Homo sapiens: one gene and its partners. The protein of the gene in region 2 interacts with the protein of the main gene of each other region in a pairwise test. Each region holds a gene or a part of one and is shown on either strand. Other genes may lie near its edges.

What was found. Proteins that work in one complex are often made in the same cells at the same time.
Region 1: the proteins of ANTXR1 (region 2) and TRIM35 interact in a two-hybrid assay, tested with the Homo sapiens proteins (one study listed by BioGRID).
Region 3: the proteins of ANTXR1 (region 2) and RNF182 interact in a two-hybrid assay, tested with the Homo sapiens proteins (one study listed by BioGRID).

Annotation. Positions count from the first base shown.
Region 1 is NC_000008.11:27,286,788-27,294,377, forward strand, and holds part of TRIM35 (E3 ubiquitin-protein ligase TRIM35), read right to left. Parts: intron 7,524-7,590; coding exon 7,293-7,523; intron 3,392-7,292; coding exon 3,369-3,391; intron 2,494-3,368; coding exon 2,375-2,493; intron 1,341-2,374; coding exon 763-1,340; 3' UTR 1-762. UniProt on the Homo sapiens protein: E3 ubiquitin-protein ligase that participates in multiple biological processes including cell death, glucose metabolism, and in particular, the innate immune response.
Region 2 is NC_000002.12:69,016,095-69,023,684, forward strand, and holds part of ANTXR1 (anthrax toxin receptor 1 isoform 1 precursor), read left to right. Parts: intron 1-7,590. UniProt on the Homo sapiens protein: Plays a role in cell attachment and migration. Interacts with extracellular matrix proteins and with the actin cytoskeleton and thereby plays an important role in normal extracellular matrix (ECM) homeostasis.
Region 3 is NC_000006.12:13,919,974-13,928,436, forward strand, and holds the start of RNF182 (E3 ubiquitin-protein ligase RNF182), read left to right. Parts: upstream 1-4,978; 5' UTR 4,979-5,050; intron 5,051-5,131; exon of another isoform or gene 5,132-5,393; intron 5,394-8,463. UniProt on the Homo sapiens protein: E3 ubiquitin-protein ligase that mediates the ubiquitination of ATP6V0C and targets it to degradation via the ubiquitin-proteasome pathway.

The DNA of each region.
Region 1 (7,590 bases), on a different chromosome or scaffold from region 2:
AATCCCTAGAGATGGCAAGCATCTGGCTGAAAGCATGCCTTTCCTATGGAAACCAACTAATCCGGAGCGATGGCGCCAGCTGCCTCCTTCACATGGCTCTCCCAGGGCTGTCACACCCCAGGCCAACATTCACCTGTCCTGACTATCCCGGGGCCAGGTATCAGACAAAAAGGGCAGCCCCTATCCTGAGAGCCACTGAAATTACTCAAGCCAGCTACCCTTAAACCTGTCTCCCCTGCTTACTCTGCCTTGCCCATTTCCTCCTGAGGAAACCAGAGGAAGTCTCTTGCCCACACGTTCCCCTCCCTCCTTCCGCCTTCTGACCCACCGTGGGGCTTTCCTATGTGGCCCCTCCTCTCAGAACCGTAAGTAACAAACTCTCCTTTCCATGGCAGTCCCCTCCTCATCCAATGGCTTTACCACACCTCGATGAGATGGTTTACAACAGGCCCATTCTAGAAGTAAACATTATTCCCAGAAATCCTGGAATAGGGATTCAGAAAATTCACATTGTGGAGGTGCCACGACTCGGGAGAGCCTGGCCAGCGAGGTGCCACCCGAATAGCTCCTGACCATGGGCACAGAAGGGACCAAACATGGAGAGAGGCACAGCCTGGAGTCATGGAAAAGGACCAGGCAGGACAGGAGGAAGAGCCTGGCAAGGAGGCAGGGGCGCAATAGTGCCCAAGCAGTGTGGGCATTAGGAAGAGGGCAGAAAGAAAACAGTGCTGTGGCACAAGACCGGGGCAGCCCCGGGCCAGCTCAGCCATCCAGTTCTTCCTTGACACTGATGTGCAAGGGGCAGATGCGCAAAGGCTCTGGAGGCCCGGCGCCCCGTGCACCCCCCAGGTAGAAGTAGGGGCGAACCTCCCCAAAGCGGGCGTGGAAGGTGTACAGGTGGCAGTGGCGCTCCGCGTCATAGAAAGACAGCTCGCCCTCCTCACACTCCAGCTCCACACGCAGGCGGCGTGGGATGGCCAGGACCAGGGGCGACGTGGCTGGGTCCGAGGTCACGCAGTGGTCCCCCTCCACGCCCTGCGTGCGGCAGACATACCAGAAGCCCGAGCGTGTGTCGTGGTAGCAGCTGTGTGAGTGGCCCTCAGCGCCCGAGTCCTGGCGCACACGTACCACGCCCACCCTCCAGCTCTGCAGCCCCCCAAGGGCCACCTCCCAGGCGTGCGAGCCCTGTGAGAAGACACGGGAGCCCAGCAGGCAGGGCGCCGAGGAGAAGCGTTCCGGGTTCTCCACCTGCACGCGGTAGCCATGGTTGGTGACGCTGGTGAGGTCGTCAGACACGGAGAGCCAGCCAGCTGCGGTGTTGGGGTCAAAGCTGAAGGGTACTGCAAGCAGAGGCGGAAATGGGGAATCAGCAAACCTGAGGTCCCTTAGGCCACACGTGGATATCTCCAGCCCCACAAACCAACCACTGTGTCACACCTGGCCCCAAGTCCATGCAAGGAGTGGCCCAGGGCTGGAGTGGTGGCAGGGGTTGGGCTGTATCCCCCAGAAGATATGCGGCAGTCCCAACCCCTGGTACCTCCGAGTGTGACCTTATTTGGGAATGGGGTGGTTGTACACATATTAGTTAAGATGAAGACTGGAGGAGGGTCCCCAATCCAATATGACCTGTGTCCTTAAAATAAAGAGGAGACAGACACAGATACACAGGGGAGAATGCTGTGTGATGGCGGAGGTGAGGATCAAAGTGCTGAGGGGGAGCCAATAAGGCCAAGAATGGCCAGGAGACACCAGGAGACGGAAGAGGAAATGAAGACTCTCCTCTACAGGTTTCAGAGGGGGCCTGGTCCTTCCAACATCTGGATTTTGGATTTCTACCCTCCAGAACTGTGAGAGAGTCAACTTCTGTCATTTTCTAGTTTGTGGTCCTTCGTTATGGCAGCCACAGGAACTCATACAGGCAGAGACTCTTAACACTCACACGACCAAGGGATGTTAGGACAGCACGGCCCATTCCCTGAGTCAGTGATATTCCTCCCCGTAAAACCAGGACACTGTGGCTCATGTGGGCTGCAGTCGCCTTAGGAGAGGCAAGCCCAGATGCAGGAGGTCTTTTATCATACAAAACACAGTTCTGAATAGGCAAGAAAGCCAGTTTCCCTCTCTGAAGAAGGGACCAAGTGTCAGGACCCTGAGAGAAGGCATTCTACCAGGAGGGTTGGAGGTGTTGGGCAGAGTGGAAAAGACCAGGGTACAGGAACCTGCCTGCGAGGGACTGGCAGAGGGATCAGCTGAGAGAGGAGGGGAGCTCTGAGGAGGTGGGAGGTGGGCCCGGCAGAGACCAGCCCTGGTGCCTCTTTGCTAACATGAAGGGCTTCCACCCATGCTTGGGACACCTGCCGGCACCCCCGCTCACCAGATTCCACAGATGCAAGCATCTTCTTCCAGACGCGGTACTGCAGGGAGCCCAGGTACTTGCAGACATCGATAAGCATGCCGGGCTGGACTGGCTCTGGCTCCATGGTGCAGAAGAGTCTGGAAAAGTACAATGGGTATGGTGGGCAGGGCCAGAGCCATGCAACCTGGGCCGAACTGGGCCAACTGGAAACCAGCAACAGGACTTGTTCCCTTCCCTCAGGCCCAAGTTTCCTGGCCACCTTCTCCAAGACAAGACTGGACTGGGCTACGATGGGAGATGGGCCAAGGCCAACAGGGCTGCCATCTCCCTTCAGCATTCAATCCGAGGGCTCACCCTGCCCCAACTAGGAGAAATACAAACAGGAGGTTCTCCAACATGGCTGCCATCCTTGCAGGCAGAAATCACACTTACACATCCGGCTCATGGGATGTCTGAGTTGGAAGGGACCCTAAGGATGCTCTAGTCCAACAATCCCAAGGTGTCCTCCAGCCTTTGCTTGCACACTGCCAGTGGGAAGTGAGCACAGGGAACTCACTCCCTCCAAAAGCACTCTATTCCATCTTTGCACAGCTCTGACTGGGACACAGCTCTTCCTCATTCATCCCTGTGAACCCAACAACCATCAACACAAACCACCATGGCCTAAGGCTCTCAGAGGGAGGGGGCTGATCAAGAAACAAGCCTGACATTGACTGGCCCCGAGAAATGCAAGCCACATGCAGGATAGTGTTCTCCTTCCCTGCACGGCAGGTGGGGACCCTCCACACTCAGGAGAACAACACTGCCCCAGAGCCAACTTGAACTGGATGCTGTGAGAGGGCTCTCTCCACCTGGCCATTGTCCACCTCTCCCTCTAAAACCAGGGCCAGTAGCTCATGTGTGCTGGTGCACCCAGCTGGTTGTTACCTGCTTGCCCCGGGGCCACTGGAGTTTGCACCCCTGGTATTTCTGCCCACTCTTCCCCTCCCCTCCACCAGCTTTGGCAACTTACCGGCGTTTTCGGCTCTTGTGTTTCTGAAAAAATAAAAATAAAAAAATAACACAGAGACACAGATGTAGAGGAAATGTATATGTTTCTGACCTCAAAAGAAGTCATGCATTCCATGGATCATAAGTCTTAATATTGTCAAGATGTTAACAATAACATCCCTGCTATGATTTGAACATATTATCCAAAAGTTCATGTGTTGAACACTGAATCCCCAATGCGACAGTGTTGGGAGGAAAGGCCTAAAAAGAGGTGATTGGGTCATGAGGGCAGAGCCCTCACAAATGGATTAATACCGTTATTGTGAAGTGGTTTAGTTGTCATGAGACTGGGTTGCTATAAAGCAATGAGCAACTACTCTGTCTTGCACTCATTTCCTCCTTCTGCCATGAGATGACCCACACCAAATGCCAGAGCCATCATGCTCCTGGACTTCCTGGCCTCACCCAGAACACTGAGCTGAATAAACTTGTATTGTTTTATAATTTACCCAGTCTGTGATATTCTGTCATAGCAACAGAAAACATAAGAAGAGACTCCTTAAGTTGATCTACTGATTCAGTGCAATCCCTTATCCTAGCTGGCTTCTTTGCAGAAACTAAAAAACTGATCCTAAAATTCACACAAAATTTCAAGGAACCCAGAATAGCCAAAACCATCTTGAAAAAGAAGAACATTGGAAGACTCATAATCTCCAATTTCAAGACTTACTACAAATCAACAGTAATCAAGATAGTATGGTACTAATATAAAAACAGGCACTGAGATCAATGGAATAGAATTGAAAGTCCAGAAATAAACCCTCATATTTACCATCAATCAATTATTTACAATAGTGCCAAGATGATTTAATGGAGGAATAGTCTTTCCAACAAATGGTACTGGGAAAACTGTATGTTGACATGCAAAAAAAAAAAAAAAAAAAAAGTGAAGTTGGACTAACCCTTACTATACCATATACAAAAAAAAAACTCAAAATGCATCAAAGACCTACATGAAGAGCTAAAACCGATAAAAAACTTGTATCTAGACTATATAAAGAACTCTTACAACTCAACAATAAAAAGACAACCCACATTAAAAATGGGCAAAGGATGTGAATAGACATTTGTCCAAGGAAGATCTACTAATGATCAAAAAGCCCATGAAAAGATGTTCCAAGTCATTAGCCATCAGGGATGTGATGACATGCAATACACAAGGAGATACCACTTCACACCTACAAGGATGGTTATAATTTTTAAAAAACAAATTTTGGCAAAAATATGGAGAAACTGGAATCCACATACACTCCTGATGGGAATATAAAATGATACAGTTGCTCTGAATAATGGCCTAGCAGTTCTTCCAATAGTTAAACCTAGAGTTACCATTTGATCCAGCAAATCTACTCCCAGACATATTTCCAAGAAAAATGAAAACATGTCCACATAAAAATTGCTACCTGAATGTTTATAGTCATATTATTCATAATAGCCAAAATAGAAACAACCCAAATGACCACTGTCTTAGTTCATTTTGTGTTGCTGTAACAAAATACCACAGACTGGGTAATTTATAAACAATAGTTTATTTCACTCGTGGTTCTGAAGCTGGAAAGTCCAAGAGCATGGCACCAGCATCTGATGAGAGCCCTCATGCTGTGTCATCCCATGGCAGAAGGAAGAAGGGCAAGAGACTACACATAAGACCAAGAGCAAGAGAGCAAGAGGGGCCCAAACTCACTTTTATAACAAGCCCACTCTCTCAATAACTAACCCACTCTGCCAGTAACAACATTAACCCATTCATGAGGGCTCTCATGACCCAATCACTTCTTATTAGGCTCCACCACCCAACACTGTTGCATTGGGGATTAAGTTTGTAACACATAAATTTTGGGGAACATATTTAAACCACAGCAACCACCAATTGATAAATCAATCAATAAAATATAATATAGCCATGTGCAACGTAACGATGTTTCAGTCAACAAGGAACCACATATATGACTATGGTATGGTCCCATGAGATTATATCACTGTTTTTTACTGTACTTTTTCTATGTTTAGATATACAAATACTTAACAGTGGGCTCCAGTTGCCTACAGTATTCAGTGCAGCAACGTGCTGTACAGGTTTGTAGCCTAGGAGCAAAAGGCTATTCCATATAATCTAGGTGTGCAGTAGGCTACACCATGTAGGCTTCTGTAAGCACACTCCATGACACTTGCATAATGAAGAAACTGCCTAATAATACATTTCTCAGAACATATCCCCATCACTAAGAAGTGCATGATTATATATCTATGCCATGGAATATTATTCAGCCATAAAAAAGAATGAAGTACTGATAGATGCTACAACATGAATGATGTTTCAAAATATGCTGACTGAAAGAAGGCAGTCACAAAAGGTTACATGTTATATAATTCCATGCATTTGAAATGTCTACAACAGGTAAATCCATATAGATAGTATGTAGACTAGTGGTTGCCAGGGGCTGCTAATTCTAGTAATTACCACTCTGTTAGACTCAATTTCGGTAGCAGTTTTTATGTGGGAGGAGGAACTGGGGAGTGACAGCTAAAGCAGGGCTGCTTTTGGAGGCATGAAATGTTCTAAAATTGTCGTGATGGTTGCACAACTCTGTATATACTAAAAATCACTGAGTGGTACATTTTAAATGGGTGAATTGTTTAGCATGTAAATTATATCTCAATAAAGTTGTTAATAAAAAATAAAAAAGAGTCACAAACCAAAATCATCCCTGAAAGCACTCTGAGTACTGGGCAGACAATACTCCCAATTCCCTAAACAGAATCCTCGAGACACACAGCTTTTAGATCCCACAAAATGATTTTTCTTTTTCTTTTTTTTTTTTCTTCATTTTTCTTTTTAGAGACAGCTCTGAACACAGAATGATTTCATAATCAGGGACATTTTTGAGACAGGAGACTTCATGGTTCCAGGCTTTGAGTGAGGTGGAGAACTCCTAAAGGACCCACCCAGGAGATGACACTGCCTGAACAGATAACTGTCCCTGTCGCCTCCCACTCCACTCTACAGCGACACCCCTTCCACAGCAGTCAGCTGTTTTCCAGGTACAAGAGACACCTCACCACCCTGGCCAGTTTACAGACCAGCTTTCGAGCCCAGAAATTTCCCTGTAGGAAATTTGTAAGGACCACTGGCTCATGGGGAGGAAATAAATCAATAAAAGGAAAAAAAAATGAATAATACTGTTTTTTTAAAGAGAGAATGGAATCATCCTTTTCTTAAGAAGACAGAAAGCCAAGGCATTATATTTAAATAAAAAATTTAAATAATTGAATGATTTTAAAAGAATTCATCTTATTAAAAGGTAGAGACCGGAAAAAAAATGAGAGTAAGAGAGAGGGCAAGAGAAAGGAAGAAAGAAGAGACAGGAGCTGGGCACAGTGGTGCGCCAGTAGTCCAACTACCTGGGAGGCCAAGGTGGAAGCATCACTTGAGGCCAGGGATTCAAGACCAGCTTGGGCAACATAGTGAGACCCCCCTCACCCCTACCTGACTGGTAAAAAATGAAAAAAATTAGTTGGGCATGGTGGCTCGTGCCTGTAGTCCCAGCTACTCAGGAGGCTAAGGAGAGAGGATCACTTGAGCCCATGAGTTTGAGGTTACACTGAGCTATAATCACCCACTGTACTCCAGCCTGGGTGATACAGCAAGACCCTGTCTCTAAAAAAAAGAAGAGCGAGGAAGAAATAACAGGGTTTCAAGGAACTCCGCCCTGATAAGTCTTTTTAGTTTCATGACACAAGCAGAGCAGGTTACTTGTGAGCTCCTCCAGGCCAGTACCCAGGAAGCTCCAGGAAGATGACGTTGGCCAGGGCTGGTGGGCTATGGCTCCCAGCTGGTCCTGGAACATGTGGCCCTGTCACTGAATCCAGACGCTGAGCTCCTTACCATGAGAAAAGAAACGTCGTCCTCCTTCATCTCCATCTGCAGCCGCTCGATCTCATGTGCCAGCACCTCCGTCTCCTCTGTGAGCTGCTTCATCTTCTCGTCGGCCAGAAGTTGCTTCTGCCTTGTCTCCTCGGCCATGGCATCCAGAATGGCCTGCTCCTCCACTCTCAAGAACTCGCGAAGCTTATCAAACTCCTGCCGGATCCGGCCTTCCAGCCATGCAGCCTCCACCTACGGAAGACAGCAGGAGGAGTCAGGGGTCAGATGTGGAGAGGACATCCATAGCCCAGCAACTTTC
Region 2 (7,590 bases):
AGTCTTTCTAGACTTGCGCTGTCCAGTAGAACTTTCTAGGTCGGTAGAAAAGTTCTATATCTGTGCAGTTCAATACAGTAGCTACTAGCCATATGTGACTCGAGCACTTGAAATGTAGTTAGTGCGATTGAGGAAGTGAATTTTTAATTTTATATAAGTTTAACTAATTTGAACTTTAATAGCCACATGTGGCTACCATACCGGATAGTGCAGACAAGAAGATAATTTGGCGACACATATAAAATGCTTTTAAAAAATGAGGGGTGTTCCTTTCCATCGAGCAATTTCATGTCCTAAAGAAAAAAAATCCAAATAGTCACAAAGAAGTACCTACATGTATGTTTATGGAGGTGCTGTTTATAATAAAAAGCTGAGGATTACATGTGTCTAACAGCAGTGGATTTACTAAGGTATGATATGTGTATAGTATTGAACCTGCATTGCATGTTATACAAGCTTGTAAGCTATTTTAGGAGAAATACATAATTCTTAACATACTATACACTTTTAGATGGAAATGCAATTACCAAACGTCATCTGCGTTATGATTCCACCTGTTTAAAAAGTTAAACACACACATGTGTATGTCTCTATTTACCAATATGGTACTACTATTTGTCTCTAGCAGGTAGAATTTTAAATTTTGTTTACATGTTTTTCTTAATTTTTCTGTACTGAACATACATTACTTTTATATTCAACAAAAATAAGTTATTTTGAATTTGTTTTGAAAATCATGTCAAGTGGGTCTCTAAACAGTGTGCTCACTTCCAAGCCCCTTGCTGTTGTAAAGGATGCTGCTGCTTTTATATTTAATCCTGGAGTAAATGTCTGAGTGCATCATAGGATTCTATGAAGCACATTGGAGACCCAAAAATGCTCCAGGAAAAGAAATGGTGGGGAGACCTTTACAGACATTCAGGTGGATGCCTCTGACTTCCTTTAGCTGTTCTGTTGCTGGAAGAGAAGGATATTTTTGTGCTGAATGAAAAACTTGCTAGAACTTGGTGCGGTAGTGCACACTCCACCAGCTTACCACCTCCATCCAGGCTAATTTATGAGATTGATGAGTCCAGAGCTAGGGGATGGGCCAAAACGCAGTGGTGGCAAACAGACCCCTGGGTGGTCGCTAAAGACATGATCTTCTGTCCTAGAGAGAACCTCCTCACACAGTGCTGTCCAGCACCCAACCACAGCCAGAGTGGAAAGTGAAAAAATGCTGACTCATTTTTTCCTTGGGCTTCTTAGATCCTTTCGCTGGCAAGACACTGTCTACAGTCTGAAACCGAGGGATCATAGGGGACTGAATCCACCATTCTTCTCCCAATCCCTGCAACTCCTTCTTCCCCTGCAACTGGTTCTCTTTTCCCATGACATTAAATCTCAGCTCATTTCAGCTTTAAGCAAGCTGCATCTCTGGCCTGGAGGGAACCCAGATTATACATTTAATGGAACGTCATGTTTTCTCAACCAGGAGCAAAGACTTCATAATGATAACCTAGAAAATACCACAGTAACACAATAGGGCATTATTAGTGGCTTTGGCGACTGGGCTGGTGGACTGGGCTGCACAAGGCTTTATACTGATGGAATTTCATGTTCACTTAAACATGCTTTTCTGGTTATAGTCAGGAAAAATAGATTGCTGGGAATTCAGTCGGGGATTTGAAAAGTTAGATTTGGAAGGCTCTGTTCAACAAAAAGCAAAGAAACAGCTAGCCTCTTTTAAGTCTTCCAGGGGATCTTCCAAGATGAATGCACCCATTTGACCAACCCACAGACATAACTACCTTCCCTCTCTCACAGCACCCCCCCACCCTCTCTTATTACGTATATGTTTATGTATTACATATTGGACTATTTTACATGGAGCTATTAGTCACTTGAATGGAGATAGTGGATTCTGCATCATGAATCTCAAGTGGCTGGCTATGTTATGTGTGCCCTGAAGACTTCAAAAATAGAATGTGGGAAAGAGAGCAGGAGGAGTGGAGATGGTGGTCTGGAAGGCAGGAGTAAACGCTGAGCAGCTTTATTTATAGGACTTGCCAAAGCCACAGCCTGTCATTCATTTTCTGCACCTAATAAATCCTTATATGTCTAAAGGCCCCCCACAGGCTCACCATGTGCTCCTTCCCCGTAAGACCTCCGACTCCCCCTGCCATTTCCCTTCTGTTCGGCACCAGTTTTCTTTTTCTTCCACTGTACAAAGGGATTCCATGTTGCCACTCCCCCAGAGTTCCAACCACAGCACCCACACCTGGATGATGCCCTGCTGGTGCTGATTTGCAGGACCACTGTTATGTGTTGTACTCCAGGGACAGGATCATCAGATAGATTTTTGTAGCATTAGGCTGGAAATTTCCCCATCAGGTATAGTACTGGCTTTTTTCTGGGAAAATATCTTCTGAGTTCCCAACTACTAACTTACAAAAGAAATACTGGATTGGGAACTTGTGTGAGTCTTGCAGACTCATGCTCTCTCACAAGGGTCCCAAAGACAACCTTGTTTGGTAGGTAGGGCGAAGCATGACTGTCCCTAATTTGAAGATAAGAAAACCTTTGTTCAGTCCACTGGGTTAAGTGACTTGCCCAAGGACCTAGGATTAGATCACGACAGAGCTAGGACAGTGTCTGCCCTTGACTCCCAGACCAGCTCTTTCCACTCATCTTCCCTGTAGAGTTGGGCCATAATGAGAAGCACATGGCAATACAACTAGAGGAACTGGGTAGATTCCAGGAATTCAAAATCCCCGCATCAGAGTTTCAGTAAATCATGGTGCATAAGGCGATTAAAGTTACTTAATTGAGGAGCTACTACTCTGCTGTTAAATCAGCTGTAGTTGATGGAAAGTATCAGGAACTCCAACCCCCTGCAACCCAGAGAAATGCTCCAGAGATCTAGGGGGTTAATTGATGAGTCAGACTTTAAGGTGTGTTCAGGACATTTTATTATGATAAATTCGTAATTTGTTCAGACTGAATCTGATAGAAAAAGGAAACTGAAGTCTGTAAATATGCTAAAACACACAGATGTAGCTTATTTTCAGAAATACATTGGAAGATGGCTTAGTGTCTGCAAAATTGGCTCTGAATAAGGAAAGCAAAGAGTTCAATAGAAGGCACCTTGAAGGTGCTACAATCAGATATTTTTTATATTTTTGGATTTTAATTCGTATAAGTCTTGTATATTTATTGTTAATTTCATTCCTAAGTATTTGATCATTTTGGTTATTGTAATGGGAAATTTTCTTCCATTTTAACTTGTTTGCTCTTAGACATATAAAGAGTATAAGTATCTGTGTTGATTTTGTTGTGAATTATTTTACTGTTTCAAATAATTTCCTAGTTGATTCTCTTGGGTTTTCTGGATATATAATTATATAACCTGCAAATAACAATTTTATCTCCTCTTTTCTCATTTCATACTCTAATTTCTTTTTTTCAACTTTTAAGTTCAGGGGTACATACAAACCTGCGCATCCTGCATATGTACCCCTGAACTTAAAATAAAAGATGTTAAAAAAAAGAAATTACATAAGAATGTGTCATGGAGTTTTGTTGTACAGATTATTTCATCACCGAGGTATCAAGCCTAGTACCCATTAGTTATTTTTCCTGATCCTCTCCCTCCTGTCACCTTCCACCCTCCGACAGGCCCCAGTGTCTGTTGTTCCCCTCTATGTGTCCATGTGTTCTCATTGTTTAGCTCCCACTTAACAAGTGAGAACATGCGGTATTTGGTTTTCTGTTTGTGCATTAGTTTTCTAAGGATAACAGCCTCCAGCTCCACCCATGTTCCTGCAAAGAACATCATCTCCTTTTTTATAGCTACATAAAATGCCATGGTGTATATATACCACATTTGCTTTGTCTAATTTATCATTGATGTGCATTTAGGTTGATTTCATGTCTTTGCTATTGTGAATAGTGCTGCAGTGAACATATGCATGCATGTATCTTTATAATAGAACAATTTATATTCCTTTGGGTATATTCTCAGTAAAGTGATTGGTGGGTCGAATGGTATTTCTGTCTTTAGGTCTTTGAGGAATTGCCACACTATCTTTTACAATAATAATTTTAAAGGGCATCAGAAAAATAGTTATCAGGGGCCAGGAATTTCTTTTATTATTATTATTTTTGTATTGAGGTGGACTTAATGCTTGGTTTTAAATGCTCCTCTAATTAAGTTCCACATTTGGAGAAGGCCTTTGAGGCCAGGCAAGAGTTGGTAGAACTGCCTGCAAATTGGATAGTTTGGCATATGGGTCAAAAATAAAAATAAATAAGGCAAAACTGTTTTGTTTTGTTTTGTTTTGTTTTGTTTTGTGTTTCTGTCTGGGTCAGCCAAGTAACTACCTCTACTTTATTTAGCTGTGGAGACCTGGTTAAACTCAGTGTCAAGGAGTGTTGGAGGAAGGCACCTGTCCCAAGATAACCTGTAATTATGTCCAAATGCTAAAGGATTCCTAGTGGTCCAGAAACAAATTCTGGGATCAATTAGGGAGACTTGGCTGTCACATAAATGCAAATGGGATTTGCTCTATGCTAATTTAGAATGTGTGTCTATGTTTGGTATGCGGCCAAGAGACTGGATCTTGCCTCTCCCCCTGATTACTCTGCAATAAAAGACAAAGAGAATATTTAAACATTTGTTGACACGTTTTTCAGACACGTCAGGTTCATACTGAAAAAGTAATTAGATTTCTCCAATTTGACTCAGCAGATTCTTCCATTCATTTGGCATAGATGACATACTCAGTTTTGATCACAAGTGTGTACTCCAATACATGCGTGGATGAAACAATGCCTATTGCAAGCAATGTCCTGCTATGGGAGGTAAAAGGAATGCAAAATAAACAGGAAGAAGTCCCAGGCTGTCAGGTTTTTATGGAGAAAAGTTAGAGGACTCTAGGCAGCCAGAGCTAAAGGCTTCAGTGAGGATTTGGGAAAGGGGCCAAGTAAAGTCAATTTTAGATCAGTAAGAAATAAGAAGTAACATTTACTGAACCCTTGCTACCTGCCAGACGCTATAGTAAACACTTTGCCTGTATGACCCTGTTTAGTGTTTACAACCCCCATAAGGTCTGTACAGTCATCATTACCATTTCACACGTGAGGAGACCGAGGTTTAGAGAGGTTACCCAAGGTCACTCTGAATGGTGAAACTAAGTCTCAAACCCAAGCCCCTCTGACTCATAATCTATGCACAAAGTTAAAAAGAATCTAAATATGCAAAAGAACATTGAATCAATCAAGGTAGGTCAGGTTATGCTGTGATAACAAATAACCCCCGAATCTCAGTTACACAAAACAACAAAAGTTTTATTCTCTGCATATACTACATGTCTGATAGGAGTCAGCAGGGCTCTTCTTATGGTGATGGTTCTGGGAGCCAGGCTGGTGGAGATTCCTTCCTGATACCTCCTGCCACCATCAAGGCTGCGAGGGAAGAGAATGCTAGATGATGTCTTGCTGGCCATGAAATGCTCCAGCCAGAAGTGACGTGCATCCTTCTCCTCACAGCCTGTTGGTCAGAACTGGTCAGATAGCCTCACTTTATGGAAAAAGACTTGAAGAATAATCCTCCATGTGCCTAGATGGAAGGGAAAGCCAGATATGGGTGGACAATAAAAGCTTCTACTGAAAACGTATAATTATAGCTTGCTTTGGCTTGAATAAGCAAGAAAGAAGTAGCCATTGAGAGAGAATAAAGAGATAAGACTTCTGGAGAAAGGTCAGTTTTGAGCCAAGTCTTGGATATACAGCATTCATCAACCTAGAATTACTGTCAGACGTGATGTTTCAAATATGCCCAAGAGGCAATGATAGCTCCTTCTCTTTTCCTCCCTTCCCCATTCTCTGCATACTTTAGATGAAATATTCAGTGAGGTGGGCGGGGGATTAAATTAGATTAAATGGAAAGTAGAAATGGAGATTAGACATGCTCTCCTGCCACCTAAGTATTACATGAATATATTTGAAAGATAAAACTCTCTTTTTCCATAGTTTATGGAATACGAGGGAATTTGAAAGGCTGGGGAAAGACAGCAGCCCATGGAACACAGACCACTGCAGCAGCAGAGCTCAGAGGATGCCTGTACACTGCAGGGGCTGATTCTGAGTTTGAATCAAGAGTATCTGGGCTCCTACTAGTGCTTCTCAATGAGGGTGCTGTTAGCATTTTTGATGGGACGGTGTTTCATTGTGATGGACTGTGGGATGCTTTAGCATTCCTCATCCTTGCTTTCTAAATACCATTAGCCTTTCTGGTCATTGTGATGACCAATAAATAACAGCCTCTATACTTATTTCTAAGGTTGGTACCACCTTGGTTGAGAACTCCTGACTAAAAGAAGGCAGGGCAGAGCAGGGTATGCCATTGATGTTGATTCCTAGCATCCAAGAACCACATCTGGGCATTTGTCTGAAGGAAGAAATTGGGAAGCTTCCATGATAAAAGCTCCAGTGGAAATTGTAGACCTTGGGAATGAATATGCTAAACTGAGGTTCTCAACCAAGGGCCAGATCACAACTTCAGAGGCCTGAGGCAGACGTGTATTTTGGAAAAGCTTCCCAGGTGATTCTGATTCAGGTCCCTCCCTCAGTGAGTCATAAGACTGAACAGGAAGACAAGAAAAGTTGCCCCATAATGATGGCTCATGGTTATGGCCTTATGATGAGGATATAGCTGAGGCAGCACACACCTTGGAGCTGGGCTATAGGCAGAGCTCTTATTTTAGATGGTGGCAGAAGAAACCACACACAATATGAAGGCAGAAGAGCAAAGGTCACTGAGAGGCCATGTTTTGCCCTTCAGTGTTGCCAGGTCCTGCTGTGTGTACATATACATTTAAGCCATGTTGTTTACTAGCCAGGACACTCCTTTGCTTCCTTTCTCATAAGTCTCCCTACATGAAATGTGCCTCATGGGAATGCTTAACACAGGGCTTAAGAAGGCCACCTTCGGAATCAGGCATCTGCAGCTTTAAATATCAGCTCAATGCTTCAGCAAGCATTGTGACCTTGGGCAAATTATTTAGCCTCTCCGAACTTCAGTATTGTTAATAAAATAGGCATTAAAATGTCTGCCTCACAAAAGTGTTGTAAAGATTAAAACCTTTAATTAACCATTTGGCACATGAGTGCTGAGACGATAGATGGTGATGGTGATGGTTATGGTGGTGGAGGTGGACGTGATGATAAAGATGATGGTGATGGTAGTGGTGATGGTGACAGTGATAGTGGTGATTATGGCAATGTTGATAGTTGTGATGAAGATGATGATGGTGATAAGGATAATGGTGATGGTGGTGGTGGTGATAGTGATAGTGATGATGATAATGGTAGTAGTGATGATAGTGATGGTGGTGGTAGTGATGATGGTGATGGTGATATGGTGGTGGTGGTGGAGGTGGAGATGATGATGATGATGATGATGATGGCAGTGGTCATGGTGGTGGTGGTGTTAGTGCAGAAACAGAATATGGTCCTCTAACAAAAGATGCCTCCATAGATTCCAAGCAGTACTGCCTGGCTAGGATAAGGAATATATCAGTTCAATATTTATCAAGCTGTGCTAGAGTT
Region 3 (8,463 bases), on a different chromosome or scaffold from region 2:
ACTTGGTTTAGTAGCAAGGATATTTCAAAATTTATCTTATCTTTGTGGAATGGATTGAAGAGAGAAGATAGCCTCCTTCACTTCTATAAGCAATTATGGGACTGTTTGGCATTGATAAGAAAGCTGGGTGTCCTTTAATTTCTTTATTGCTAAAGCCAGTAGGGTAGACCATAGTCTTTGTAAACCAAGGCATCATACACAGAACTAATTTCAAGTTGGGTAGAATTCTTGTCATTTGGCTGAATCTTTAATTTCTCGAAGAGATTCACTATGATTAAGGAATTGAGAAGGGTAATTGGGCACCCCTTGGAGCCTTTGAAACAAATTTGATTTAAACTCCCCACTATGGACACAGGTTGTTGAATTCAAGGGATCAACATATCTCCTTGGAACAAGGATGTTCAAACCACTTAGGAGCAGTGTATAAAAAAGTACATTTTCTCTACTTACAGGCATATCTTAGTCAATATTTGCCTTTTAGAGCAGATGTGCCCAGTGCCTTAAAGGGGGGCCATTGGGAAGACAGGAAATTGTGAGTTCTGGGTTTCTGGCTTCTATAGACTCAGCTGAGATGTATTTTCTTTTTCAACCCTTCTAAATGGCTGGGCCTGGGATTTTCCCAGTCAAATTCAAAAGCTAGCCATGAAGAAAACTAATTTTAAGACATAAACAAGTATTTTAACATAACATCTAAGACATAAACAAGTATTTTTAAATGTGTCTTGAATGTATTCGTATCACCTCATTAAACAATGTCAGAACATGGCCAGAAGCCAGGAGTTGAAGGAGCCGTTGCTTAATGAGATAGTAATGAGCAAACATCGAAGCTTGCATTTTCCTTCTGCTTGTTCCAAAATGCATGACTTAGCGGGATAAGATATTTGAGCTCCAGCTCTTAAATAATTTTAAGATATTTCTTAGGATAGTTGCTTTTCCTTTTAGTGTTTGATTGTGTCAAGAAGTAAAGGTTAAGAAATGTTATTTTCCCCTTTATTGAAGCCGTAGGGTGTAGTGGTTAGTAGAGTAGTAATTCTGCTACTAAATAACTGTGTGACCTTGGACACAGTGTGCAATAAATGCCAGTTATGATTATGACGTATAATTGAGGAAAAAATAAGGATTTGAATAGACAAATTTCAAGTTAGGGAATAGGAAAATTTTTATACAAATGCTTTAGTAGGGATGTATTATTTACTTTAAATATTAGAAATTTGACTACAATAAATTGACTTTAAACCACTTGATAACATTTGCTGCATTTTGTTAAACCAAAAAAATTTAATATTTATCAAAATGAAATTATTATAGGTGCTGATCTTGTTATTGAAATTTCTGGTTTATTTTACTAACTTGAATCAAAATATCTCTTTAATTTTGATAACTTTATAGTCAGTTCAAGGGTAAAAAGAATGAACTTTTGATGACTCAGTTACAGTTCCAATCAGACCATTTAAAGGAAAATGAGAGATTTATCTCTATATATAGATGAAAGATTTATATATACATATATAGACTAACTTGAATTGAAGGTTAGTAGAGTAAGTGAGAGAGCTGGCCAGGCACAGTGGCTCACGCCTGTAATCCCAGCACTTTGGGAGGCCGAGGTGGGCAGATCATGAGGTCAGGAGATTGAGACCATCCTGGCTAACATGGTGAAATCCCATTTCTACTAAAAATACAAAAAATTAGCCGGACGTGGTGGTGGGCGCCTGTAGTCCCAGCTACTCGGGAGGCTGAGGCAGGAGAATGGCGTGAACTTGGGAGGAGGAGCTTGCAGTGAGTGGAGATTGTGCCACTGCACTCCAGCCTGGGCAACAGAGTGAGACTCCGTCTCAAAAAAAAAAAAAAAGTGAGAGAACCAACAAAGTATAATAATAAAAGTAATAATAGTTAACATTTATTCAGCATTGTAGACAATCAAGCATCTAATTTTTACAACTCAAGGAGGTAAGTATTATTATAATCCCTATTTTATAGGTAAGGAAACTGAGGAACAGATGTATTAAATTGCTTGCTGAGGTCATGTAGTTGATAAACAGAGCTGAGATTCAGGTCCAGGTAATCTGACTTTAGTGTCTGTGCTAAAATCTTTCTAAAATATAAAAGCATAAGCTAATGCTTGCATATAATAGGATTCTAATAAGTTGAAATTATTTAACAGAAATTGCCATACTGTGGCATCTTTATGAGTTGGGGAGCATTAATAAGGTAATTACATTTTAACTAAAAGTTAAGAAGAATAGCTAACTTTAGATTTCTTAATGATATTTTGCTATAAACACTAATTCTAAAACAGAGCTGTCCAAAATGTCACATATATAATTTATAATTTTCTAATAATCATGTTAAAAAAGTGGAAAGGAACAAAAGTTAATGATTTTAATAACATCTTTTATTTAACTCAATAAATTCAAAATATATTTTAACATGTAACCAATATAAACATTATTAATAAGATATTATTTTTTTAAAGTTATTGTTCCAAGTCTTTGAAATCTGGTGTGTATTTTGCACTTACTGAACATACCAATTCAGTAGCTAATTCATATGTGGCTAGCAGTTACTGAATTAGACTGTGCAGCTCTAGATCTTTTTAGGAAAGCAAATTCATTATTTTAACCTCATTTCAAAAATGGTGAGAATAAGAAAGACTAGTCATGTATCCACACATTAATTTTTAAGCTTTAGTATCTTCAGTTTCAGTTTAGCTAAACAGACTAAAAGCTGCCACTTAACCTATTCAAATGATATCCCCTGGTAAGTAAGGTGGCACATTTTAAGATGGTTTCCTGACAAGTCTTTTAATTTTCTCCAAGAGGCAGAATGGAAGCAGACCTTAAGATAAAGCTAAACCTCTTTTGGAAAAATGAATGTCTGGAAGAATGTCTCACAGAATAACGCAGGACCAGGTCACTAAGCAATGCTCTAAGTGGGGACACAACGTGGACTTTTCCAAGCCTTCAGCTGAGGGCAGGGATGGCCAAGTCAATGGTCCCTCCCTGTTCTGTATTCAGTTTTTGATCAGGCAGTAATGTGCATGCAGGTCAACAAACATTTATTAAAGCTTTTTGTTTTTGCTTCTTCATTGATAAATTACTAATAAATGCTCATTTGAAAAAGCCAAACAAACCAAATATGTGTACTAAATTGTACATCGTAAGAGGTAACTGTCCCTTCAATTTTTTTTGTAGTTAACAGGTTACCACTTCTAGCAATTAGGTAGGCATTCTTATAGACCTTTATCCCTATGTTTTTGTTCTGTTCCTATATATCCAGTTTTTTTGTACAGAATGGGATCACCCACACATACGGTTCTGAGCCCCCCTTTTCCATTTAATAAGAAATCAATATCTATGAATTTTATATATTTTATTCTTATTAATGGATGCATAGTATTACATGGTATGAAGTGCCACATTATTTAACCATATCACTATTGATGGGCATATAAGTTGTTTCAAACATTTACTATTACAAAACTTCTGCAATGCATATCCTTTTATATCTATCATTACACATTTGTGTGTTTCTGTATGACAGATCTCTAGAATTGAGATAGCTGGGAGAAATGTATGTGCATTTTGAATTCTGGCAGGTATTGCCAAATGCTTAATGGCCTGCCAAAAAGACCTTGTCTTTTGACTTCATCTGGAATATTATTGACTTCATTCAGAATATTCCCATTACAAGAAAGTGGCCAGTCTCTCCGAGGAACAAACTGTTTTCCTTTTCCACCATGAAATAGATCTTATCTTTTCATTAGTTAATATAGGTGTACCTTCAAATGGCAATAACATTGTTCTGCTTTGTGGCTTCTCAAGTAGTAAACCCAGAAAACATCAGCTACCGTGGATTTTATTATAAATCATTGACATTCCTTTGGTGATTCACAAATGCCAAAAAATAAATGTCATGTTCCCCAGGGTTTGAAGAAAGACACTGTAGCTTTTGGATTCAGCAACGGATCTTTCAAGAAAACAGTATGGAGGGATGACTCACTCCCCCCATGGAGGCTGCCCTCTAGTTCGTCCTTTAGAGGAAGCATGACCAAGGGTCTGCTGGTACTTTTCTCTCCCTCTCTAAGAATTTCCTCAGGAGAGGAAAAAGTTAGCTTTCTTTTCTCTGCTCCTGAGTGCCATGGCCTGCAGTACGTGACCAGTCCTTGGCACAGAGTCACTCAGGGCTCATGGTAGATGCTTAGCGGTCACAGCCAGTAGCTGCGCAGTGTGGCAGCAGCTGAGATCCATACTGCAGCCTGAAAGTTGTGTTTCAGCTTCTGAGGTTACAAGTGTATCCAGTGTTTACATCAGAGATAAAGCCCCCTTTCCCCTCTCTCCTACGGGAGCCCTCAACAAGACAGATACACGGGTTGGGTGGAGTGAGACCACATCCAGCAGAGGCAAAGCTTGCTAAAAGAGAGAGGAGGAGGAGGGGGAGAGGGAGGAGGCGGCACGGCGTCCCTTGGCAGCTCCGTGCATGCTGCGGCAGTTGCAACAGGAGAACCGAGTACCAGTTGCTCAACACTTTATCACTTTGCATTGCTCTTTCTCCTCCCTTAAGTGAATTTCCATTTTGAGGGTACAGCTCCACAGGAGAAAGGTGTGGTGGTGGTAGTGGTGGAGGGTGTCTGTGGGGGGGATGGTGGTGCGACGGGAGTTGGAATGTCCAGTGTGGGGAAGCAAAGGAGTGCCTACTAGGATGCGAATACCACTTGGCCCTGGGCTCGCTCCGCTTTAGCCTTCCCCTCTCGCTGGGGAGAAACAGGCGGTTTGTGAGGGAGACTGAGAGAGGGGCGTGTTTGTGGTGGTGGCGGCCCATCGGGGGTCCTTGTCCTCTCCGAATACCCGGACTGCTGAGGGGAAGGGCCGGGGGGGCCCCGGCGGTTGCCATGGTGACGCAGGGTCGGCGGCTCAGCGCCGTAGAGACAAAGCCGCCCGCCCGCCAGCCCGCTAGCTCCTCGCGCGAGCTCCTCCTCCACGGGAACCTCCCTCCCCTCCCAGGCGCCGCCGCAGCCGGAGCGGCTCCCGGGCCCTGGGCCGCCGCCGGCCAGGTAAGGCGATCGCGCCCGCGGCCGGGGAGGGGTCGGCGGGACGCCGGGCCTCCCCAACGCTGGGGCAGCAGCCAGCCCCGCAGTCCTGGACGGCGCCGGGCCGCCCAAGCGCGCCGAGGAGAGGGGGCGGCAAACTTCGGGCCGAGCGGCGCCGGGGCCCGCGCGCGGAGTCTCCCTCCGGGCACCACGGGGGCCGCCGTCCTGGCACCAACTTGAGGGGCTGTGCGGCGGAGGGCGGCTGCGGAGCGCCCGCGCGGGCTGCACCTGCTCAGGGAGCTGCCCCTCTGTTGTTGTTGTTATTTTCCTTCTTGGCGTGCCATCGAGGCTTTTGGGGGAAAAAAAGGTATGAAAGTATTTACCTTTGGACTTTCATGTTTCATGGCATTCTCTTTGAGGAGGGGTTGGGAGGGTAGTAAGAGGGACAAGCGAAAGATTTTTACGAATCTCTGAAAAGTGAGCCCATTTTTATGCCTGTGGCTGAAGCATTTTGAGGAGGCTTCTGAAGTTCGTTTGGATATTGAATCGAAAGACCTTTTTTTCTTTGGAAGGTGCAGTTGCACCTATAACTGGATGGTAAGGGTAGCCCGGCTTTCCCCGACTAGCAAGACCAGAATGTAGAGCAGTACCGATACTTTGTCAAGGAGATACTTGGCACCGAGGTCATTGCTTTTGTTTCTAGAAGGTATTGTGTTCATGCTGTAAGGAACTGGAAAGTGCCTTTTGTTTTTATGTGTAGGGAGGCAATCCAAAGCACCTCTGGAGGCAGGTAGCTGGGCGGTGTTTGCATCGGTGTTTATGAGTGGGATGATGAGGACCACGATGCGGTTGCCACTGGGGCACTGGATAGGTTATAGGTACCTTTCTCAGTGGCCCCAACCCTTGCAATCATTTCGTGATAGTTTGTTGCAGACGCGAAGCACAGATTTAAATTGTGACTGTGAAGACTTTTTTTTTTGGTACTTAGACATCATCTTACATGTAGTAATATGAAAGAAAACAGATACATTTTCAGAAATACAGTTGATCAATTCAGAAGGAAATTGTATATATGTTAATAAGATTTGTTTTAAATCATATTTAAACAATATGAGATGTCATATTGATAACTGGAAAATAATCTAACATATAAAATTGTATATCCAACTTAGTAAAATAATGTATAAGTTGGAATAGGTCATTTAAAGAACTATATGGAATGCAAGAAATTATATTTTTGCTAGAGAGTAATTAATGAAAACAGTACCACTGATCATTTTGAATTGCAGTTAAGTTGATTGGAATTCTGCATATTACAGCTACTTGAGGTGTCAGGCAAAGAGTGATTATTTAATATTCCTCTTCCCTCTTTTGGGATTTCAACACCTGTTAGCCTGCTGATTACTAGGTTTCTCAGTCTGTTCATATTTGCCAGCAACTTCAAGTAATGCCACTTCATTAGAAGATTGTATTGGAAACTAAAGGATTGAAGTTGCAATTAACAGTTTGCAGGTTATTTCACAATTGGGCTTGTTTTTAAACTGAATTTTACCTGTGGAAGATTCACAGATGCTCTGCTAAATACTCTTTCATGACGGTAATAAAATCGTACATTGATTAAAACGAAGTAGATCTGTTTTGAGAAGATAAACGGGAGAGAAAAGTATTTTCTCACTTAAGCATGAACAGCAAATAGGATATTGAAGCCTAGGCACATTATATAGACAGAGAATGTAGTTTTATGTTTTGTACTAAAAATAAATTATTTTGTGTGTTTGTGTGTGTGTGTGTGTTTTTTTTTTTTTCCTGAGGGACCAACAGAACAGCTTTATTCAGATCTTTGTTAGCAAAACCAGTATTCAAGTTCAAGGACTTGGTCCGTGCTTTCTGCCAGATGAAACCCACACTGTGAGTTCTAGCCTAAACATTTATGTTGTGGCCCTTAATCTGAGTGCTGAAGAACGGAGATATCCATGGTGAATTTAGCACAGTAAGGACCGGTGCTTTGCCTTTGCTGCTAGCTCACACGGGCACAACATTCAATATAGTTTGGCTTCTTCAGAGCTGCATCATTTTCTGCCAAAAAATAAAGTCGGTATACAGAAATCAACAATCATGTATTGCATGCACTGCTTGGTTGTAGTGGCTTATTAATAAGAGCTCCGAAGCATGAAATGAAGCTTGTGTCAGTGCAGTGGAAAACAATAATCTGGCATGTTTATATGTGTTACTAGTGTTCTGAGGTATGTGCATAACCAGATAATGAAAGAAAAAATACTATGATATCTGCAATATGTCCTTAGAAAATGCAAACAGCAATTGTGTTTTCTGTCCATGGTTTAGCCACCTGGTGGAAGCAGGCAACAGCATTGCATATCCCCAGGTGTAAAATACTAGTCATCACTCTTGCTGATTCACGGGAGTAGGAGTCTTTTCCTGCATTTTAGCTTACGGGTTTTAATTTTATGACGTAAAATTGGTCCTAATTTTTGGTATAAGCTGTAAAATATGGCCTGATAATTGTCACCATAGCTGTATTCTACCTGAAAGAATTCTGTAATTCAGTTTATGAAGCATATCCAAAGACAAAAAAAAGCCACAAATGTTCCTGTTTAAGTTAGGATTAACATTATGTTTGTGCCATTGAAAGTCAGTTGTTTGTAACCATATAAGCCTGCATAGGCAGCCTAAATAAAGCCACTGAAGCCTTTATTGACTGTTTCTGGGTCAACATTCTCTTGCAATTTCTAGTTGCACTGTGATAACATGATTACTGGTTGGTAATTTAGCATCTAGTGCAATGTGTTGTAGCATTTATAAAAGCACATTTGTGAAGGATGGTAGTTTTTAAATGATTTCTTCATTACCAAAACACTTAGATTTAGATTTGTGGCTGGGGAGAATAGTGTGGCCCTGAGACCTCAAGACAAAATGCTGTAAATATCAGGTATTGTTAACTGACCTGCTGTGCACAGTGGGTATTTGTCAGAACTACTGTGCTGAGAAAAGGCACAGGAGACACATGGTCATGGTGATAGGTTGTGGTGTTTAGTGACATGGATTATTAATAGTGATTGATAGAAGCTGAAAAACTTTTGTGGACGTGTGTTTCATTTTTCATGTTTTCAATTAAAATGGAGATAAGATGTCTTAAGCTGTTTGGTAAGCCACAAGTGCTTGGGGAAAATGTATACTTTTATACAGTATTGTACATAATTTAAGTGATATAAACATAGTTCAAGATAAACGATTGTTTTCCTGATGTGCCAATTTTTTGTAGCAGTTATGGAGTATGGTTTTGGACATCAGTCATCAAATGTTTATCAAATGCTTCCTTCTATATATTCTATGTTGCTTGATGAAAGTCAACCAACCTCTTATAGTTGGGGACTTACTTGTTTCTCAGCTATTAGGATTATTTATTTTATATGTAATTC